3 linked regions of the Homo sapiens genome follow. The protein of the gene in region 3 interacts with the protein of the main gene of each other region in a pairwise test. Each region holds a gene or a part of one and is shown on either strand. Other genes may lie near its edges.

Evidence for each region. Proteins that work in one complex are often made in the same cells at the same time.
Region 1: the proteins of TRA2B (region 3) and PCDHB14 interact in binary tests that used the Homo sapiens proteins (3 or more experiments, as listed by UniProt).
Region 2: the proteins of TRA2B (region 3) and MYPOP interact in binary tests that used the Homo sapiens proteins (3 or more experiments, as listed by UniProt).

What each region holds. Positions count from the first base shown.
Region 1 is NC_000005.10:141,218,740-141,226,342, forward strand, and holds the start of PCDHB14 (protocadherin beta-14 precursor), read left to right. Parts: upstream 1-4,603; 5' UTR 4,604-4,766; coding exon 4,767-7,163; 3' UTR 7,164-7,603. UniProt on the Homo sapiens protein: Potential calcium-dependent cell-adhesion protein. May be involved in the establishment and maintenance of specific neuronal connections in the brain.
Region 2 is NC_000019.10:45,899,614-45,906,642, forward strand, and holds the start of MYPOP (myb-related transcription factor, partner of profilin), read right to left. Parts: upstream 3,001-7,029; 5' UTR 2,957-3,000; intron 2,213-2,956; 5' UTR 2,161-2,212; coding exon 1,662-2,160; intron 1-1,661. UniProt on the Homo sapiens protein: Transcriptional repressor; DNA-binding protein that specifically recognizes the core sequence 5'-YAAC[GT]G-3'. Dimerization with PFN1 reduces its DNA-binding capacity.
Region 3 is NC_000003.12:185,928,015-185,935,036, reverse strand, and holds part of TRA2B (transformer-2 protein homolog beta), read left to right. Parts: intron 1-3,276; exon of another isoform or gene 3,277-3,460; intron 3,461-7,022. UniProt on the Homo sapiens protein: Sequence-specific RNA-binding protein which participates in the control of pre-mRNA splicing. Can either activate or suppress exon inclusion. Acts additively with RBMX to promote exon 7 inclusion of the survival motor neuron SMN2.

The sequences.
Region 1 (7,603 bases), on a different chromosome or scaffold from region 3:
CCTCAGTCTCCCGAGTAGCACCCCCAGCTATTTTAAAAAAAATTTTTGTAGAGATGGGTTCTCATCATGTCGCCCAGGCTGTTGAACTTCTGGCCTCCAAAGGTGGGAGTTATTCTAGCAGCTTCCCTGTGATCTTCTCATATCTACTGGTGGAGTGGGAAAGAGTAGTTCAAACAACTCAGACAGAAAATCTCGCTGGTGCAACAGTGGAGAGAAGGGCCAAGTACTTGTCCTGTTACTTCCAGTTTTTCTAGATATATGAGCAGCAGGACTCCTCTCTTTATAAAAAGAACTATGAGTTTCCTGGCTCTAATGAAGAGTGACCAGGCATTCAGGAGCTCAAATGCCCAGATACATATAACCAACCAATTCTCCTAGAATGCATTGCTAAAAACGAATTTTGCTTATATGCTTCAAAGACCTCATTTATAGTTATACTTAAAACAGTGCATAGGAATCAAGCTGTATCAGCCAATTTTATATGAAAGAACTATAGGTTGTAAGTAACTTAGAATATAATTTTTTATCTAGCGGGGGTTAAAGGACACTTAGAAAATAGAGACACAAGAGATGGCCCAGCCTTACAGAATGGATTCTCCTGAAAACGCTTACAATAAAAACCAAATAACAGTATTTTTTTTTTATTTAGGCAATAGTATGGGAGGGAAAAGGGACATAGGACATTTTATCTTACAAACACATTGTTCTCTTTATCTTTCTGTTTCAAGTTCTACCACCACTCCTGGGTCCACTGATTAATCTAACAACATGGCCTCTCAGTCCCTAAGTCTTTACCTCTACTCCTGTTTTTCAGTCATTAATGCCCTGGCTACATATTGTACTTTTTCCCCACCAAGAAACTGTTCTATGATATAATAATTTCAGCTATCTCCCTCTGAGTGCACAATTGTCTATGCCTATAACCTTCTCATTCTGCTGTTTCTATCACATCTTGTCTTTGACCTTATCAGAGCTCCATTCCATGGTGCTGTTACTACCTATCAAACGCTCCTGTTTTAATTTCCTTCCTATTCAGCTGATTTCCTGGTTTACCACTCCCAGTTGCTCTCATGCCCATATTCTCAATTCCCTTGTTCAATTTTCCTTCACTAAAACCACCTGATGAAACTCCAGCCCAGATGAATATAGTCCTCCTCCTCTCTTACACATGGGGTGCTGCACTCTATAAGACCAAACTTACAAAATTAGCAATACCACTGCCACTATAAATGTATAATATTCAAACCTAATTGGGCTTCTGAGACCAAGAACTCCTTTTATAATTTTTCTAACGAGCTTTCTCTTCTACGCTCCACAACAACTATTTTAAACCTACGTATCTTACTTTAAACTTCTTACCCTACCACTTAGATACCCCCTTTTATCCGATGAACTTGCCTGATACCTTATTGAGAAAATAGAATCCATCAGCTAGAAATTCATTTTCCTGTCCCCTACTCCACAGCTTTAACAGCATCTGTATCTATACTTTTCACCTGCTGAGGTCCGTCCCACTGGTCTAAATCCAAACACTTCATACATTGCCTGGATCCCATCTTTAACAACCTTTCTAGGGGACTTGCATTATCCCTTCTGTATCTTAATTTTCTCCTTCCCTACTGAACATTACACATTGGCATTTTAAATATATTCAAGTTTCTCTAGTCTTTAAAATACTCTCTGAGTCTGAATTCTTCTCCAGATACCAATGTATTTCTTATTCCTTTTACAGCCTTTTCATTCTTTACAAATTTCTTGAGAGCCTGGATGCAGTGAGCCAGTGAGCCTGGGTGACAGACTGAGACCCTGTCTCAAAAAAAAAATTGTTGAAAGAGCGGTTTACCTCATTTTTGCTTCCTCATCCGCCTCACTTTGCACCGAAGTACAATCTAATTTTCATCACAACCATTCTACTGAAACTGCTATTGCAAATGTTATCAAAGATTTCCATATAAGTTAAGATTATACTGTGGAACCAATGTGATGCAATGACACAGTGGCTTGTAAACATGTCTCTCTTTTTCACATGACAGTACCAATGTAAAAATTATTAGGTAGGTAGGGCAGCTTTCATCCTCACAGTCCTTCTGAAACCAAATTTTCTTTCAAGTAATTTCTTCAACATTCCCTATGGCAATATAATCTGCATGGCTGTAGCTGGGTCACTGTCACATCTGGGTTCTAGCTCGCTTGGAAGAAAGAGGCATATCCAGATGATTTCTGTTCTATAACTGGAAGGGGAAGACAGAAATTCTGCTCACAATCCATCTGTGAGAACTTAATTCACTTGGCCACACTCAAATACAAGGGAGGCTGGGATGGGCAATCTACCTTCATGGCCACATACCTGGGCACAGTTCTATTACTATAGAAGCAAAGGAAAACAGATTTTGTCAGACATCTATCAGAATCCTCCACAATGACCATCTTTTTAAGCCCACTGGATAATTGTCATACTTATTTTTCTTGATTTTTCTGAAGCATTTGCAGCCATTGATCTTCCTTATCTCCTTAAAATGCTATTTGCTTTTGATTTCATGATTTTGAACTCTGAGCCTTCTTTATCTTTTCAAATATACTTCTTGCCCTGTCTCCTCTAAATGAAGATGTTTCTCAGAGTTCTGTGCCAAGCCTCTTTTATACTTATTTGACACACTTTTGCTTGGTTATCCTAGAGCATTCATGGTGTGTATATATATATATATATATATATATATGGTGATTGAAACCATGAATGCTATATATATATATATGCTATATATATGCTCTCTGTATATATGCTATATATATGCTCTCTCTCTATATATATGCTATATATATGCTCTCTCTCTCTGTCTCTCTCTGTCTCTCTCTATATATATACATATATACACACCACAGTTCATATTGCCAGCTCAGATTTATTTCCTATGCTTTGGTTATATGCAAACACACACACACACACCCCACCACCACGCAAACACACATCCTACAGGCACTTACCTCAATATCAGCATGTTCAAAACTGAACACTTCATCTTTTTCCACCCCAATCATGTTTTTTTTTAGCATTCCCTGTCCTAGTGAATGACACCACTAGTCATCCAGATGCCCAGTCCAGAGGTGTGATATCATCTCTGAGTCTTTCCCATTTTTCTCCCCATGCAACCTATCAACCAACAGTTGAAAACATTTCATCTCCTCATACCTTTCTATTCATCCCTCTTCTCTCCATCCACACTGGCATTATCCTCATCCAGATCATCATCTCTTATCTGATCTCCTTGATTCTCCAGTCACTCCCCCTGAAATTAATTCTCCATACTGCAGCCAAACTGATTTTTTAAAATGCAGATGTAATCATGTTAATCAGATATTTAAAACCCATCTTTGTACTTGAATTACCTTTAGGATAAATTCAAGAATGCATGATATGACCTGTATAATGATTCATGTTCTCACCATGCTTTTAACCCTAATTTCATTGTTAGACCCTCCCCTTCCATAGTTTTTAAAGTCCAAGGCATACTTCATTTCTCTGTGTTCCTCAAAATGCCCATCTGAAATATTCCTCCTTCTCCTGGCTAGTTCCTTCAGATCACAATGTATTTTTCATTACCTCAGGAAAGCTTTCACTGATGTCCCAAGTCCGACTTTGATCTTAATTATTTTATTTTTGACAGACACTTAACCAGCACTTACAAACCACTTTGTAAATATTAATTCATTAGATGCCTACGATAATAATCATAGGAGACAAATATTATTACCCCATTTTACAGGTGAGGAAACAAAGGTATCTATAACTTGCCCAAGCTTATAGATAGTAAGTCACATAACCAGGATTCTAATATTGATAATTTGGTTCCAGATCCCATATTCCCAAGCACTAAGGTATGCAGCCTCCTAGGTACAAGAAGTCTTTTCTAGGTATTTCTATATTACTTTTTATAAATGCATACATTATGACATACTTCGTTTACTTGTCTGCCAATTTTTCTAGCTTGTGAGCTCTGTAAGAGCAAGAATTATCTCTAACTTATTTGTGCCATGTCCTTCTTTATATTTTTAAAATATAAAAGTGAAAAAAGTAATGATATTACCAACTATAGCTGACAACAAGTATTTACAAGAGTGAAGGAGATAATATATTTGTAATTACTCGAGAAATGACTTAAATAAAAAATTATTTCTTCAGTTCAGAATATTTTAACAGATCCTTTAGTGCCGAGCATTCAAAACAGTGATAATGCAGTGTATGGACTTTTCTGGATTCAAATTCAAACAAACCAACAGCAAAGGACATTTTGGAGAGAACTGGGGAAAACCAAATGCAGTATAAATTACACCAAGGAATTATTGCTCAAGTTGTTGATTGTGAACGTTTTATTACAATTATCTTTTAGAAGGCCTTACCTATTAAAAATACTTAGTGAAGTATTTAAAGGAAAAAAAATGATGTCTGGGATTTGTTTCGAATGTTCCGGATGTATTTATGAATTACTTTTTCAAAGAGGAAAACTTTTTTAATGAAAAAAAAAACATGGAGACACATGGTGGCGCTACAGGATAAGACGAAAACAGTACATAGGCTGGCACGGTGAGCTTCGCTATTCAGGAGAACAGAAAGCATCCAACCCACTGAAAAGACAGGCATTAAAGGAGCTTCGCCTACAGAGCTGCTGGAGGATACACTCTCCAGGGGGTTCCTGTTAAAAACCAGAGCTTCAGCTTCCAAAATTACGGCTGAGCTTCAGTTTTTCCACAAGAGATTGCCTAAAGGAACCATGGAGATCAGAGGGGCACTCGATCTGCGAAAAAGGCAAGTTCTAATATTCCTTGTTTTGCTGGGATTGTCTCGGGCAGGTACTGAATCTGCACACTATTCTGTGGCAGAGGAAACAGAAATTGGCTCTTTTGTGGCTAATCTAGCGAGGGACCTAGGGCTGGGGGTGGAGGAGCTGTCTTCACGTGAAGCCCGGGTAGTGTCTGATGATAATAAAAAGTATTTGCACCTTGATTTGCTGACTGGGAATTTGCTCCTAAATGAGAAACTAGACCGAGACGAGCTGTGTGGCTCCACCGAGCCCTGTGTGCTGCATTTTCAGGTGGTTTTGGAAAACCCTTTACAGTTTTTTCGGTTTGAGCTGTGTGTCAAAGACATAAATGATCACTCCCCTACATTTCTAGACAAGGAAATACTTATTAAAATATCAGAAGGTACCACTGTTGGAGCTACCTTTCTAATGGAGAGTGCTCAAGATTTGGATGTCGGAAGCAACAGTCTCCAAAACTACACAATTAGCCCCAATTCTCACTTCTACATTAAAATTCCCGACAGTAGTGACAGAAAGATATACCCAGAGCTGGTCCTAGATAGAGCTTTAGATTATGAACAGGAAGCTGAACTCAGATTAACACTCACAGCAGTGGATGGTGGATCCCCGCCCAAGTCTGGGACAACTTTGGTTCTCATCAAGGTGTTGGACATCAATGATAATGCCCCTGAGTTTCCTCAGAGTCTCTATGAGGTGCAAGTCCCCGAGGACAGACCCCTTGGCTCCTGGATTGCCACCATCTCAGCTAAGGATCTGGATGCAGGAAACTATGGAAAAATATCTTACACATTTTTCCATGCATCAGAAGATATTCGTAAAACATTTGAAATTAATCCAATATCTGGGGAAGTTAATTTGAGATCACCCCTGGATTTTGAAGTAATACAGTCCTACACTATAAATATTCAGGCAACAGATGGTGGGGGTCTTTCAGGAAAATGCACCCTTCTAGTTAAAGTTATGGATATAAACGACAACCCACCAGAAGTGACCATATCGTCGATTACAAAGAGAATTCCAGAGAATGCCTCAGAGACCCTAGTAGCTCTTTTTAGTATCCTAGACCAAGACTCTGGAGACAATGGGAGGATGATTTGCTCTATTCAAGATAACCTCCCTTTTTTCCTGAAACCGACCTTCAAGAACTTTTTCACTCTAGTTTCTGAAAAAGCACTGGACAGAGAGAGCCAAGCCGAGTACAACATCACGATCACCGTCACAGACTTGGGGACACCCAGGCTGAAAACCGAGTACAACATAACCGTGCTGCTCTCTGACGTCAATGACAACGCCCCCACCTTCACCCAAACCTCCTACACCCTGTTCGTCCGCGAGAACAACAGCCCCGCCCTGCACATCGGCAGCGTCAGCGCCACAGACAGAGACTCAGGCACCAACGCCCAGGTCAACTACTCGCTGCTGCCGCCCCAGGACCGGCACCTGCCCCTCGCCTCCTTGGTCTCCATCAACGCGGACAATGGCCACCTGTTTGCCCTCAGGTCGCTGGACTACGAGGCCCTACAGGAGTTCGAGTTTCGCGTGGGCGCCACAGACCGCGGGTCCCCGGCGTTGAGCAGCGAGGCGCTGGTGCGCGTGCTGGTGCTGGACGCCAACGACAACTCGCCCTTCGTGCTGTACCCGCTGCAGAACGGCTCCGCGCCCTGCACCGAGCTGGTGCCCCGGGCGGCCGAGCCGGGCTACCTGGTGACCAAGGTGGTGGCGGTGGACGGCGACTCGGGCCAGAACGCCTGGCTGTCGTACCAGCTGCTCAAGGCCACGGAGCCCGGGCTGTTCGGCGTGTGGGCGCACAATGGCGAGGTGCGCACCGCCAGGCTGCTGAGCGAGCGCGACGCGGCCAAGCACAGGCTGGTGGTGCTGGTCAAGGACAATGGCGAGCCTCCTCGCTCGGCCACCGCCACGCTGCACGTGCTCCTGGTGGACGGCTTCTCCCAGCCCTACCTGCCGCTCCCTGAGGCGGCCCCGGCCCAGGCCCAGGCCGACTCCCTCACCGTCTACCTGGTGGTGGCATTGGCCTCGGTGTCGTCGCTCTTCCTCTTCTCGGTGCTCCTGTTCGTGGCGGTGCGGCTGTGCAGGAGGAGCAGGGCGGCCTCGGTGGGTCGCTGCTCGGTGCCCGAGGGTCCCTTTCCAGGGCATCTGGTGGACGTGAGCGGCACCGGGACCCTGTCCCAGAGCTACCAATACGAGGTGTGTCTGACAGGAGGTTCCGGGACAAATGAGTTCAAATTTCTGAAGCCGATTATCCCCAATTTTCAAGTTCATGACACTGGTAGGAATATGGGGGAAATCGAGAACTTTCGAAATAGCTTTGGACTTAACATTCAATAAAACAATTTATTTTAAATGTCTAATTTTTGGTTATTCTTGGCAAGCTGATGGTACTTTTTGCATAATCTTTTGTGGATTCTTGGTTGTACTGTAGTTGCATGCATGATTATAGCTCTTGTTTTTCTCACAGTTTCTTTAAAAATCTTTATTAGTGGCTATAATGACGTGGAAATGTAATCTGTGTTTTCTGGTTTTTCATTTATTTGGCCAAAATGTTATATTAATGGAGTTATTGCTATTTTTGCTGTGATAATGGTATTATGCAAGACCATATTCTCAATTATTTGGATATGCAAACTAAAGTATTAAGAGCTAATGTCATTATATATGTAACTTAAATCTAGACACCATCAAAGCATAAAATAAAAATAAAAAGCGTTGCTGAATCTGGGTCGAAAATGTAGTGCGTTTATCCCACTATTCTCTCTGAAAATGTTCTT
Region 2 (7,029 bases), on a different chromosome or scaffold from region 3:
TGGATCACCTGAGGTCGGGAGTTCCAGACCAGCCTGGTCAACATGGTGAAATCCCATCTCTACTAAAAATACAAAAATTACCTGGGCATGGTGGCAGGCACCTGTAATCCCAGCTACTCAGGAGGCTGAGGCAGGAGAATCACTTGAACCTGGGGAGGCGGAGGTTGCAGCAAGCCAAGATTTCGCCACTGCACTCCAGCCTGGGCAACAGAGCAAGACTCCGTCTCAAAACAAAAAACAAAACAAAAAAAATAGTAAGTCCAAATTCCTGACCTTGACTTCCAAGCCACGTGTAATCTAATTCTGGCACACTCATTAACTCCTGGTCAATATTAACTCTTGTTATTGCTGGGCAATCTTGCTCAGTGGTTAAGTGCCATGGACTGGGGGTTGGACGCACACTTATGCTTGAGTCCTGACTCTGTCACTTACTTGCTGTGTGACCTTGGGTGGGTGAATGAACCTCTCTGAATCACATAATCTTGAACTGTCTTGTTTGATCATGCCCATGTTCCTCCCCTTCTCCAAACTCTTCAGTGGCTTCTCATAGCAGTCAGGATAAAATCCAAACTCCTCACCTTGGCCTAAAGGCCCAGTATGGTCTGGCCTTTGCTGACCTCTCTGAACTCATCTCAAAATGTTACTTTTCTTCAACCTTTCCACTCTACACTCTTTTCCCCGCAACTTCTTTTAGTTTCCCAAACTGGCCAAGCTTTCTTGCCTCCAAGCCATTGTACATGCTGTTCCCTCTACCAAAAATACTTTCCCAGTTCTTCATTCTTACTCTTTGCATCTCAGCTCTGATGTCCCCTCCTCCAGGAAGCCCTCCTGGACCACCCCCCCCCCCACCGAAATCAGAAACCCTCTCTGGGCTCCCACAGTCCCTGGGATCCCCTACCCCAGCCCTGCTCCCTCAAGTCATCACCGTCTTCCCCACCCCCCTACTAGACTGGCTCAGTCATCCATGTGTCCCCAACCTCATCGAGCATGGGGCAGGTGCTCAGGGAACGGCTGTAGAAGAAATAATCCAGAATCAAGGCTAAGCAGGAAGTTTCTGTAGTCAGCTCTCCACACCTCTATCCAAGGCATGACCTTGGGAAAATTACCAAACATGTCTGAGTCTTTTATTTATGAAATAGTGAAATAGTATGCATCTTACCGCATTGATGATTCTATCAAGAACTAACAATGAGAGTTGAGGAGGTGCTGAACTAAGCAACTTACCCATATTAGCTCATTTAATCTTCACAGCAACGCTTTGAGGTGCAGACTATTTTTATCTCCATTTTACAGATGCAGCAACTGAAGTACAGTAACTTACTCAGATGACACAGTTCAGTGGCAAAGTTGTGATCGGAGCCCAGGCAGCCTGCCTCCAGAGTCACTACTCGACACTGCATTTAATGAAATCCTGCCTGTGCTGATGACCCCAGGTGTGGACCTGAGTCAGGCCTCCTAAATCTGGTTCCATTCCTGGCTCTTGACAGTTACTAGCTATCGGAACTGAGGCAAGTCATTTCATTTTTCTGAGCTTCAGTTTCCCTAGCTATAAAATGGGGCGAAGGACAGCATCCACCTCACAGGGCTGCAGCAAGGCTTTGATGAGACATGTAAAAGGCTTGCAACAGCGCAGGCACACAGCCTACTCTGAAGACACTCACCTGCACGTCGGTCCTCCCGGCGGTCTTCCGACAACACGTAGCGCTGAGGGCAGGCGCTTGGGGGCGGCGGCTGTGAAGAGGGGGCCGCAGGGGGCTCCTCCGCCCCAGCACCTGCCCCCGGCGCCGCCACACCTGGCCCCAGGATGGCAAAAATGGTCTCCTCTTCCGCGGAGAAAGCGTCCTCCGCGGCGGGCCCGGCGCCCTGCGTGGAGTGCGGCACGCGAGCGAGCTTCTCCTTGGTGCGGCGCTTGAAGTCGTTCCAGCGCTTCTGCACCTCCTGGCCCGTGCGCTTCCAGCTGGTGATACCGTTGATCTTGGCGGCGATGCCGTCCCACACGCGCCGCCGCTCTGCCACGCTCACCCGACGGCTCTGCGCGCCGTAGAGCTGCGGGTAGTGGGCGCGCACCTCGCGGATCAGGATCTGGTTCTCTTCGAATGAGAAGCGCGGCTTGCGCAACCGGGTGGTTTCCTCCGCTTCGCCCGCCGCCGCCGAGGCCATGGCGCCCCCCGACGCCGCCGTCCTGCCGTCTGGCGCATGGGGGGCGCCGGCGCTGCGGGCAAAGGGCGCACGGGGCTGGCTGGGGTTCGGGGTCCCCCCGCCGCCGCCTCTCCCAGACCGCCGGGCCGAGAGCTCCTTAGTCCCCGGGGGCAGGAGTGGGGGCGGGGGGCGGGCGGGGGCGACGGGCACCCGGGTAAGTCGGAAGCGCCTAAGAGTAGCTGACACCGGCTGAGCGCTTGGCTCGGACTTCGCGCGGCGCGAAGTGCCACGCTGAAGAGTTGATAGAAATTGGGGGAGGGTCTGGAGGGATGGAAGGAAAGGAGGAAAAGTGCGAGGAGAGGAGGTGTCTGCAGGAGTTAGAGAATGGGGGCACGGGAGGATAGGAAATGGAGGGAGGATGGGGGTGCCTCGGGGGGGTCTTAGATGCATGAAGATAAGGAGATGCGGAAGGGGGGATGCAGCAAGAAGGGGGGAATCTGGAGCAGAGGAGGCGCTCTAGGGGCTCTAGGGGGCAACGGGGCGTCTGTAAGACCGATATGAGAAGGGCCCTTAGAGGGATGTCCAGGAATAATGGTGAGGTGGGAGCTCCTGTATCACTGGAAGAGCTGGAACGATCAAATATTAGGGATCAGGGTCTGCGAGGATTGTGGGGGCTCTGGGGATTGCCAGAAATTAAGGGGAGCTCTGGAAATAACGGGGGTCCCGTATCACAAGGAGACAACGGAGGCTACGGGGGACGGCAGGGAGAGCGAAGGTCGCGGAGGGTGGGGACCGAGTCGGGCCACGGGTCACTCACCGGCTCCGCCGCAGCCGCCGGTGGGTCAGGGCTCGGGCTTCTGCGGCCTGTTCCCACCCCCCGCCTCCCTCCCTCCCCTCTTTCGGCCCCGCCTCCGGCCGCCCCGCATGCCAAGGCGCAGGCGCGCCCAGGGCCAGTCGGCCCCAATGCCCTTACCGCCAGGGTTTCATTCCCACCTACCCCAGCACAGCGCAGGCGCAGAACTGCGCTCCGCCGAGCCCCACCAGCAGGCCGCAACTGCGCAGCCGCAACGTTAGCGCCGCGCGGGTACCCCAGCTTCCTGGGGCCACAACGGCGCACGCGCAAAAACTCCATCGCGCGCATGCGCGTGCCTCGGGTTGTACCCGGTACCGGGTCTCGGCGCAGGCGTTGCGAGCTTGGATGGGAGAGATGCTGGGAGCGCGCCAGTACCCAACCTTTCGGACAGTCTTCCAGCCCACCCTGCCCTCTAACCAAAGGGGAGGGAGACAGCGCTGAAGGGAAGCGCTTTGTCTCCTTGACAACTGTGTGGGTGGGGTGGAGGCGTGAGGAAACCGCTTTGCCTCCTGGCTTGCCCGCCCCTGCGCTGGGCCGCTCCAGAGCTTCCCACCTCGCACCCCTAGAGGCTGGGCGTCCTGGGGATGTCCCGCCCCGGGCGGATGCAGTAACCATAGCGACCCACAAGCCTTCCAGTCACGCCTTGGGGGCCCCTCTGTGCGCACCTTTACCTCGAGGAGCGGGGAAAATAAGAGGGAAGAGCTTCCTGGCTGGTAGGAAGGGAGATCCTGACGCCGGCACGACTTTAAGCAAGTGCATGGAGACAGGAATGAAGCCAGAACGCAGGTGGGGTGAGCCGCATGGCAGGATGATGGAGCTCAGTCCGGCTGAGAAGTGTGTTCGTTAGCATCCTGCAGGAGTCCTCAAGGTCATTCGACAATTGGTGCTTCATTCATCGACTCAATAAATATACATGAGCACTTACACAGTTCCTGGTACAATGAACATAAAAGCTAAAATCCGTAGCCTGGGCCGGGCGCGGTGGAGCTCACGCCTGTAATCCCAGCACTTTGGGAAGCCAAGGCGGGCGGATTACCTGAGGTCAGGGGTTCGAGACAAGCCTGGCCAACACAGTGAAACCCCATCTCTACTGAAAATACAAAAACTAGCTGGGCATGGTGGTGCATGCCTGTAATCCCAGCTACTCGGGAGGCTGAGGCACGAGAATCGCTTAACCCCGGGAGGCAGAGGTTGCAGTGAGCTGAGATTGCACCACTGCACTCCACCTGGACGACAGAGTGAGACTCCGTCTCAAAAAAAAAAAAAAAAAAAATACATGCCTGTAGTCCCAGCTACTTGGGAGGCTGAGGCGGGAGGATCGCTTGAGCCCAGGAGTTGCAGGCTGCAGTGAGCTATGATCAGGCCACTGCTCTCCAGCTTGGGCAACAGAGTAAGACCCTGTCTCAAAAGAAGAGAGAGAGAAAAAAAAGGCCCCTCTGCCTGCTGTGTGGAGGGTGGGTGGGAGGGAGCAAGACTACTGGGTAGAGTCAAAAAAAGTCATGAGCAGGGGTAAGAAAAGGATTAGGAAAGCGAGGGGAGACTAAACTAAGACAGGGACAGTGTCAAGGGGGACACGGAGAGACATTTGAGAGAATATATGGAAAGCATGGTGAGTGTCGCGCTAGCGAGGGAAAGGAAGATGTCTAGGTGAAACCCAAGTCTCTGGCCCAGGTTCTCACTTGGGGGTGTGGGGTCAGGTAAGATGTGGTGAATGTAAGGCTGGGTGCAGTGGCTCACGCCTGTAATCCCAACACTTTGGGAGGCTGAGACAGGTGGATCATCTGAGGTCAGGAGTTCGAGACCAGCCTGGCCAACATGGTGGAACCCTGTCTCTATTAAAAATTCAAAAAAAAAAAAAATAGCTGGGTGTTGTGCCATGTGCCTGTAATCCTAGCTACTCGGGAGGCTGAGGCAGGAGAATCTCTTGAGCCTAGGAGGCACAGATTGCAGGGAACCGAGATCTCACCACTGCACTCCAGCCTGGGCGACAGAGTGAGACTCTGTCTCAAAAAAATTAAAAAAAAGGCCGGGCGCAGTGGCTCATTCCTGTAATCCCAGCACTTTGGGAGGCCGAGGCAGGTGGATCACGAGGTCAGGAGATTGAGACCATCCTGACTAACATGGTGAAACCCCGTCTCTACTAAAAATACAAAAAATTAGCCGGGAGTGGTGGCAGGCGCCTGAAGTCCCAGCTACTCGGGAGGCTGAGGCAGGAGAATGGCATGAACCCGGGAGGCTGAGCTTGCAGTGAGCTGAGACTGCGCCACTGCATTCCAGCCTGGGGGACAGCGTGAGACTCTGCCTCAAAAAAAAATTAAATTAAAAAAATAAGAACAACAACAAAAAAAACACAATCAAAAAAAGATACGTGAGTGTAAAGTGACCAACAGGTTGAACTGTTTCCCCCAAAAAGAGAGGCTGAAGTCCTGATCCCCCAGTGCTTCAGAATGTGACCTTATTTGGAAATAGGGTCCTTGGAGAGGGAATTCGTTGAGAGGTAGCCATACCAGTGTAGGGTGGACCCGTCATTCCTCATTCCCGGTGTCTTTATAAGAAGAGGAGACACACAGGGAAGACAATTCTATGGTGACAGAAGTGGAGACGGGGGTGACGCAGCCACAAGCCCAGGAAGGCCCTGTGCTATCAGAAGCTGGAAGAAGCCAGGAAAGATCACCCGCTGGAGCCTTGTCCGGAGTGAGGCCACGCCCATGCCTTGATTTCGGATTTTCAGCCTGGTGAATCTGGGAGACAATACGTTTCTCTCTCTCTGTTTTTTTTTTTTTTTTGAAATGGAGTCTTGCTCTGTTGCCCAGGCTGGAGTACAGTGGCACGATCTCGGCTCGCTGCAGCCTCTGCCTCCCGGATTCCAGTGATTCTCCTGCCTCAGTCTCCCGGGTAACTGGGATTACAGGCGCATGCCACCATGCCCAGCTAATTTTTGTATTTTTAGTAGAGACGGGGTTTCACAGTGTTGGCCAGGCTGGTCTTGAACTCCTTACCTCAGGTGATCCGCCTGTCTCGGCCTCCCAAAGTGCTAGGATTACAGGTGTGAGCCACCGTGCCTAGCCACGTTTCTCGTTTTAAACCACCCAGTTTGCGGTACCTTGTCATGGCAGCCACAGGAAACAAATGCACTGGGGACCCCGGGAAGGCATTCGGGGAGCTGCATTCAGGGAGCTGCTGCCTCCATGGCAGTCCAGGCAGAGAGTTGAGTCTAAACCTGGCTCTGGGTTCACGAGGCGGTGGGAGGTGGAGAGCCACAGCAGTGGGGTATGGAGCTCCACAGATGTGGGTAGCTGGAAGCTGGATGCAGGAAGTCAGAGGGCAAGACTCCTGGGGTGAGGGTGGGTCAGGGAAGGCTTTCTAGGGCCACATTTTCTTTCTTGTCTTGCCTCTTTTCTTTTCTTGATGGAGTTTTGCTCTTGTCGCCCAGGCTGGAGAGCAATGGTGCGATCTCGGCTCACAGCAACCTCTGCCTCCCTGGTTCAAGCGATTCTCCTGTCTCAGCCTCCTGAGTACCTGGGACTACAGGGGCACGCCACCACACTTGGCTAATTTTTGTTTTTTTTTTAGTAGAGATGGGATTTCACCCGTGTTGGCCAGGCTGGTCTCAAACACCTGACCTCAGATGATCCACCTGCCTTGTCCTCCCAAAGTGCTAGGATTATAGGCATGAGCCACTGTGCCTGGCGAAGGGCCACATTTTCAAAACTGTGAGTTGTGAGTCCTTTTTTTTTTTTTTTTTTGAGACAGAGACTTGCTCTATGACCCAGACTGGAGTGCAGTGGTACAATCATGCAATCATGACTCAAACTTCCAGGCTCACCCTCCCACCTCAGCCTCTAGAGTAGCTGGAACTACAGGCACACACCATCATGCCCGGCTAAGTTTTAAAATTTTTTGTAGAGACAAGATCCCACTGTGTTGCCTAGGCTGGTCCCAAATTCCTGGGCTTGAGCAATCCTCTGTGAGGCCTCAGCCTCCAAGAGTGTTGGGATTACAGGCGTGAGCCACTGAGTCCAGCCAAAACTGTGAAT
Region 3 (7,022 bases):
TTGCACGCAGTGTAATGTTCTGAGCCTCTCAATATTGTAATGAGTTTCTACGAGTGAGTCTTTACTAAAGGAATCCAGAAACTAAGGAGACACTGATGTATGGACCAGATGTTAAAGAAAATGTTTTGACCCAGCAGATACTCTGATAGAATACTGGCTATTATTTTTGTAAAGCCGATGTGATTGCAACATAGGCACGTAATCTTTATCATTAGAGATGAATAGCAGCATCTGGACACCAACCCATCAAACTGCTTTTCAAATTCTGCAGTTTTTCTCATCTTCTGCTGAATCTTGGGATGTCTTTTTATATTCCTTGGTTTTAGCTCCTAAACTCTAAATTCTAATTTTCAAAACTGAAACATCTCTGAATCTACTTCTTTCTAAAGAATTGCAGCCATCTCACCAAATTTCCTTTAAAAAAGGATTGAATTGTCAAATAGGAGGAAATTGTTTTGTATTGTGAGTCTGGTTAGGTTTATCAGTCTCTTGAAACCCGGTTGAAATATTTTTTTCTTGGTTTTAAACAAGAATGCTTTAATATTGTGGATATTGTCTGGAACTAGAACGTGACATTTTCAAGCTGACATTACAGGTGATTTTATAAGGTAAGTACTACTGGTTTTGCCAAAAGGTTGAAAAGGAATTCAGGTGGTGGGGGAAGTGTTAATGGGATTTGCCTTACATAGCGTTTTTTCCTCCTTTCTCTACAATAAAATCCGAACGTAGGTGGTAAATATTAATGCTTTCATAGCTATTTTGCCCAGGACAAGGGCAGAGCTACAGCTGTGTATATTTCTTGAGCCTTAGCATTTTATGTTGATCAGTGTTTTTACATATGCGACTGTTTTTTTAACAAGGCATGGTGACTGATGTTTAGGAATTTTAAGTGTTTTGACCCAGGTTAGTATTGGGGGTGTGGGCTATGTAGAATTAGATATTGAAATCACTTAGTCTTGTTTTTAAACTGCAAACCAAAAGAAGTTCTTCACTGTAGCAAATTACAGTCTTGAAATTCCCCCAAAATCTTTGCTTTGAATTGGGTTTTGGAGGTTACATTGAGATTGATGTTATCAACATAGATTGTTACCTGACAGTTTGGATAAGGGGCCCCTTTTTCTCTAATTTTTGTGGTTAGAAATTAGGTTAAAAGGTAGTCTTCTGAAAAGTCAAAAGATATTTATATTTGCTTTTGTTGGGGAGTACTGACTGTTTTATGAATGTAAATTTAACAGTCTGTGCTATATTTACAAGAGAGTTTTTATAAGCACAGGCCTACAACTAATTTCAGATGATGTTTTTTTCCAGACACTATTCTCCAGTTTTTGAGGATTTACTTATCCATTTACTCTTCTGGTAGACAGTTTGGCTGCCAGAAAAAAATATAGTCCTTATTATATTGATATGAGCATTGACCTTTCCATAACAGGATTAATGAGGTTTTCTTTGCCCCTGTCCCTCCCAATTTTTAAAATATTGCCTTGTCAGTCAACTTAATGAGTTTGTGCATGTTTAATGTTAAATGGATTCTAGTTGTATCCCCTAGAAACATTTTAACAAAAATTGTGTTGATAGGACAAGTTTCTGTTTATTTCTAACTAGGGTCTCTTAACTAAATGTACATAACATTAGCCCAAGAGTTGATCTTCTGGTTTTATAAAGTAGCCACTTGAACTTAGCTGAGTTGAATTAAATCTAATATTTATAATAATTTAGTAATGGTTTTGTTCTTAGACTATAAGAGAAGGAACCAGGTTAGGAAGGGGTAATGAAGTAACAGCAGGAAGGTATCCACATTGAAAACAGTTGTGATAGCTAGAGCTATGGCCTCTATTCTTGTATCTTCTGCATCTAAGTGCCCTGTCTGTATCGAAGTTTTAGGAGGCCCTAAGGAAACCTGCTTGGGCATTCTGATTCCATGATTACATTTGTGCTGCCAGAAAACATTTCCCATTGCATTTTAGTGATGGAGATTTAAAGAAAGCCAATTACTGTAACTCCCTTAAATAAAAACATATTTAAAAATTTTCGGATTAAATAAACAATAATTGACTCTAAAACTAGACTGGAAATTATCCTTTTGTTAGGAAAGACATCACAGCACTTGCCAGATTAACGATGGTTGTCTTTATGCCCAGATAGGTATAAAGACTTGCAATTTTTTTAAACAAAGCCTTACATTTTTTTCAGGAGGAAAAACCAGGAGAGGAAGTAATTGACAATAAAATGAAAGATCATCAAAGTGAAATGTAGGATAACAAGAAAAACTAGCATGTTTTATGTAGGCAGTATTTTATTTTGTTTAGTATGTTCAACAGACATTTACAGATCAACTAAATTCAATCTTTTTAATTATTTGAGGAGGTGAGCTGTAATTTAAATAGTGCCACCTTTTAAAGTAGTATTTCTCCTTTGGACATCCAGAAGACTTAATATTTTCTAAATTGAGGGGGAAAATGTACAACAAAACTCTTTGAAAATACCAGTGTTGGATTCAAGTTTGTTCTGCTTTCCTTCATAGCTACTGGCATATTGTAGGTGGTTGACTTGATTTTGTCTTTTTATGATTCATACTATAAAATCTCACTAGAGCAGCTTTTCCAGGGGGTGGGTTACACTTAAGCTCCAAATTGTCAGGTTCCCTGACACCGTCTTTCTGCAGAGCTCTTTAAATACAGTACAAAAATGTGTGACGCTAAATACGTTTCTTTATCCTATCTAGACAAGTCACAATACTGTAAACCTCTTCAACCCTGAGCGTTTGTCATTGTACAAATGAATTGTCCGTGCTTTCCTTTCATGCACTTATGTATTAATGTGTCACTTTTTGACTAGAGGTGTGCTTTTGACACTTAACCTATTTTCTATTGAATATAATAAGAAGTGTGAAATGTAACTAATAGTTCTTAAAATGTTAAATGAACAGTAAATGTTCAGTGGCGCACTTCACATTCAACTTAAGCATGATAAGTCTATTTGGAGTAGAGAAATGAGATTACCATATATTCTAGAACCAGCAGAAAACTATGTAGTTTTCAGTTTTTTGAGCTGCATATTCTAGTTTCTTTTTTTTTTTTTTTAATCCAAATCAACAAAGGGATTTTTTTTTTCTAGTTTCAGTTTTGGCACTGGATTTTATCCTGGAGTTTTAAAATATTCTTCATCCTGTTCTTTTTCTATTAAGGTTAATGTTGAAGAAGGAAAATGCGGAAGTCGTCATTTGACAAGTTTTATAAATGAGTATTTGAAGCTCAGGAATAAGTGAAGCTGAAATTTGAAAAAATAAAAGAAAGAATGCATGCTAATTATCAGACCAGAAGTCCCACTTGTAGAATATTGAGCAATTTGTGTGAAGTGGGGAAGATGAAAGAAGTCAGAATTTGAAACGGAAGAATGAAGAAAAGAAATAAAAATGAAGTTAAGATAAGAAGTAATCTGGAATCAGAAAGCACTACGCTAAGTAATTACTAGTCTGTTTATGTGTCCCTGTATATTTTGCTAAACATGCATGCATTATTTGTTTAATAGAGGAAAATATATACAGGGTAAAGAAGTGCCTTCCAGGGGAAACGTTTAAATTAGGTAATTCTGATTTTAACTGCTTAGTTAAATGATTGAAATGCAATTTTTAAAAAATATTTAGTAGTCAAGCACCAGGCAGCAGTGAGCTCTCCAGCATGGGTAACAGTGGGCTTCATGTTGTCCTCTCTAGATAAACTTTACCTGTCTAATGTTGCTGGTCCTGGGGCATGAGCGAATACCTCCAGGGTTGGAACTGGTGGTCTTTGCCACCTCCCTGGACTCTTAGATTGCACTGTCCCCTTTCCTTCAGTACTGAGCAATGTATAGTAGAATATTTTCTGTTAAACCATTTTCAAAGGAATGTCACCAGGATGGTTATGGAACCAAACCCCCAAAATCCAAACAAAGCATTGAACAAAATAGTTCCCTTTGGCATTAGTGTGTTAGTTTTTTCCATATGGCACTAGTGGAAATCTGTGAGCATTTGGGCCCTAAATTTAAGATGCATATTTGCTAAATACACAGGGATGGTTTTTCAAATTCTGTTTCTGTTTAATGCCTATTTCAGCTGATTGACTAGGATTACTGATAAAATACCGTAGCTTCCCCTTAGAAGAGGTGGGTCACACAAGTGAACAGGATAGCTAATACAAATTGCAGTAATGGCAGATGCTTTCATTCCTATTTCTCCTTTTTTGCTATCAACATTTAGCTATTGTAATGTTAGAGGTAACGGTTACAAAGTAGCTTTATTCTGGTTACCTGGTATCCCTTGCACTTATTGAGAAATTCAACCCAAAAGCTGTCCCTTCTTTTCTGTGTGTTTTGTTTTAGCTGAGTAGAAGGGTCAAGTGATTGGTGTAATGTTACTTTCAGTTGAATGAGACAAGTACACATATCAAAAATAATACCCAGTAGTAGTCAGCCAGCGGTTTTCTACCCAGTTGAGAATGCCAAGGGTATCATGTCACACATGTCTTCCTGAAATAAACTTTCTCTGAGAGTTGTCAGGTCTTCATGCTCTTGGAGAAAGTGACTTAAATGGCATTTCTTGGAGAATCCATTTTCTGATGCTTTCAGGCCTGTTTATTTCTATATCTTGCAAGCAGAAGAAAATTTTCTCTTAAGAAGTTTTGCATTCCTTTGTCAAATTTCTTGCCATAGATAAACTAATGATGATAAATGTTATTTTATGTTCCAAATTACTCAAAGAGCAGGCAGGAAACTGAGGTAAATGTGTGAATGAATATTACATTTTAATTCCAAGCCCATGGATTCTTTTATCAAGAAACCTGACAGGTCCTTGGGGTGCAAAAGAGGAAAAGACCTCTTAACCCCCAGCCCACTAAAGGAAAGAAAGCAATTTGGAATCTGGTTATGACCCAAGCTGGATAGACTTAAGGTGAGAAAACGTTGCTAGTGGACCATTGTGTCCATTTGTTTTTGTTTTCCCCCTTGACCAAAGCATCTGTGGGTCCTAATGTGTCTCCTCCTCGGGCCATAGGGAAGATGAGGAGGAGGCCGGCTTCTGTTCCTGAGAACAGGCAGTGTGTGAAAGACTGCCTTAATCAGAGGTCTGATTAATGCTAAGGGGAGTCAAAACAAGGAAGGGGATGACAGTGTTTCAGGAAGATAACCTTTGCCAAGGGAAAAAAATGAGTAGGAAGCATGTAACTTCTGAGGTTGACTAAGTCAAGTAAGTCAGACTTAACTAGTATGATAAACAGTGTTTTAAGAGATGCAGTGTTTATGAGCCACTATTTTAAATCTAACAAACCACATTCAGTTTTTAAAATAATACAGGGATTGGATGGTTAGTCCTTTCAAATATGTTTTTGTAAGGTGGTTGCTGTTCTCAGAATAGGGAGATGTGGATTATTTTGTTGGAAGGCTAAGTGTGTTGTATTTTTACTTGATGTATTCCCTTTAGGTTTTGTATTAGGATGTGGCTGAGATCCAGTCTGTGAGAGCTTGATTGATTTCCTGAGCATTTTTTCAGGGAAATTTTGGTTTTATTCATGCTAATTTTAGTTTCATGGTCCCTTTTTTTGAGGCAGTGGTGTCCAGTTCTGTCTGTTGGTGTGGTTTTAATGTGTTGACCATGTCAGCCCTGAGAGTGGAATTTGAAGTATGCTTAGATTTAGGGACTTCCCCAACTGGTTTTTATAGCTTTACCTGTCTGCATTGAGATTTAAAGTTAATTATGCTTTTGATTTGGGTGCTAATTTTAGGTCTTATTTCTTGTAGGCAAGTTTTATTCCCTTGCCATATGTATTTCCCAGCCAGTTAAATGGCCAAAATAACTTCAGAAAGCTTTAACTTCTTTAAGAAAATATCCCTGATAAAGGATCGAGACGTTTAGGTGTTACCCAAACAAGTGTCAGTATAGAAAAGGAAGCCTTTGCATTCTGGTATTTCCCTTATTCCTGGCCCAAGAAATGATTGCTTACAAAATATATCTGCATAGTCCGTTAGTTTTGGAGGCTGAGTGAAAACTCCTGTGATTTCAGAAATATTGTATCTGTGATCTGCTAGATTTTAAGGAGAAAACTTCATTAAGTCTTATTTTCTAGGTTAGGAGTACTGTCTCTTCCCTCAGTGGACAGGCTGCCGAAGCATCTTAGCTTAGAATAAAGGTTTTTCTGTTAAAGCCAGGAGCTTAAAGAGGATCTTGACTTGACCCATTCTTCCTTTATACTCAGATTCCTGGGCTGACTGATTTCTGTTAACTACAGTTACTTTATTGGTAGTCTTAACTGTTACTGTGAAACACCCATATTCTGCTTTCACTTCTGGAGAAAATTGTTTCATTTCCATAGAGGTAATCTTTCTAGTGTTGGAGTAAACAGGCTTTTAGCAACTTTTGGGTTCCCCATTTCTATATTCTCACCTATGTTAATTTTTGCCTGTGGTAAAAATAGCAAAAACTACACCCTCATTTTTGAGACTTCCTCCTTTGTCCATGGAGAGAAGGGAAGTGTCCGTTCAGAATACTTGATAGGGAATTCCAAGGGATTGTTGTTAATTGGAAGCCCCAGAGCATCACTACATCCTTTAACCATTTCTTGATGTTAAAGGCAGCTGTTCATATATTTTTCTTTTAATCTTTTTACAGTCAGTCATGGAGGGAGGTAGAGGGGAAAGGCTGTCACATTTCATGTCACCCCACCATGTTTTATAATGGCTTTGAAGTCATTTGAACGTTTCTAGAGTCGTCTGGGGCCTAGAGACCTGAACTCATTTTACTGGATGAGTTAGCCTTTCCTTCTGTGTTAAACCTCAAACCTTAATTTGTCTATTCTGTGTTACATTATAAATGTTTTCCCTGAGCATCAAAGGATCATCCAAATTTTCTCCATTATGTTGTAAACCACAAAACTATCTTCTAAAGTGTTTTGAGCTGTAATTTAGAATAATCCTCTACTGTCCTTTCAAGAATGTCCAGAATACTCTGAAGATGTATCACACAAGGAAATCTCTTGTGATTTTATCTGAAAGCT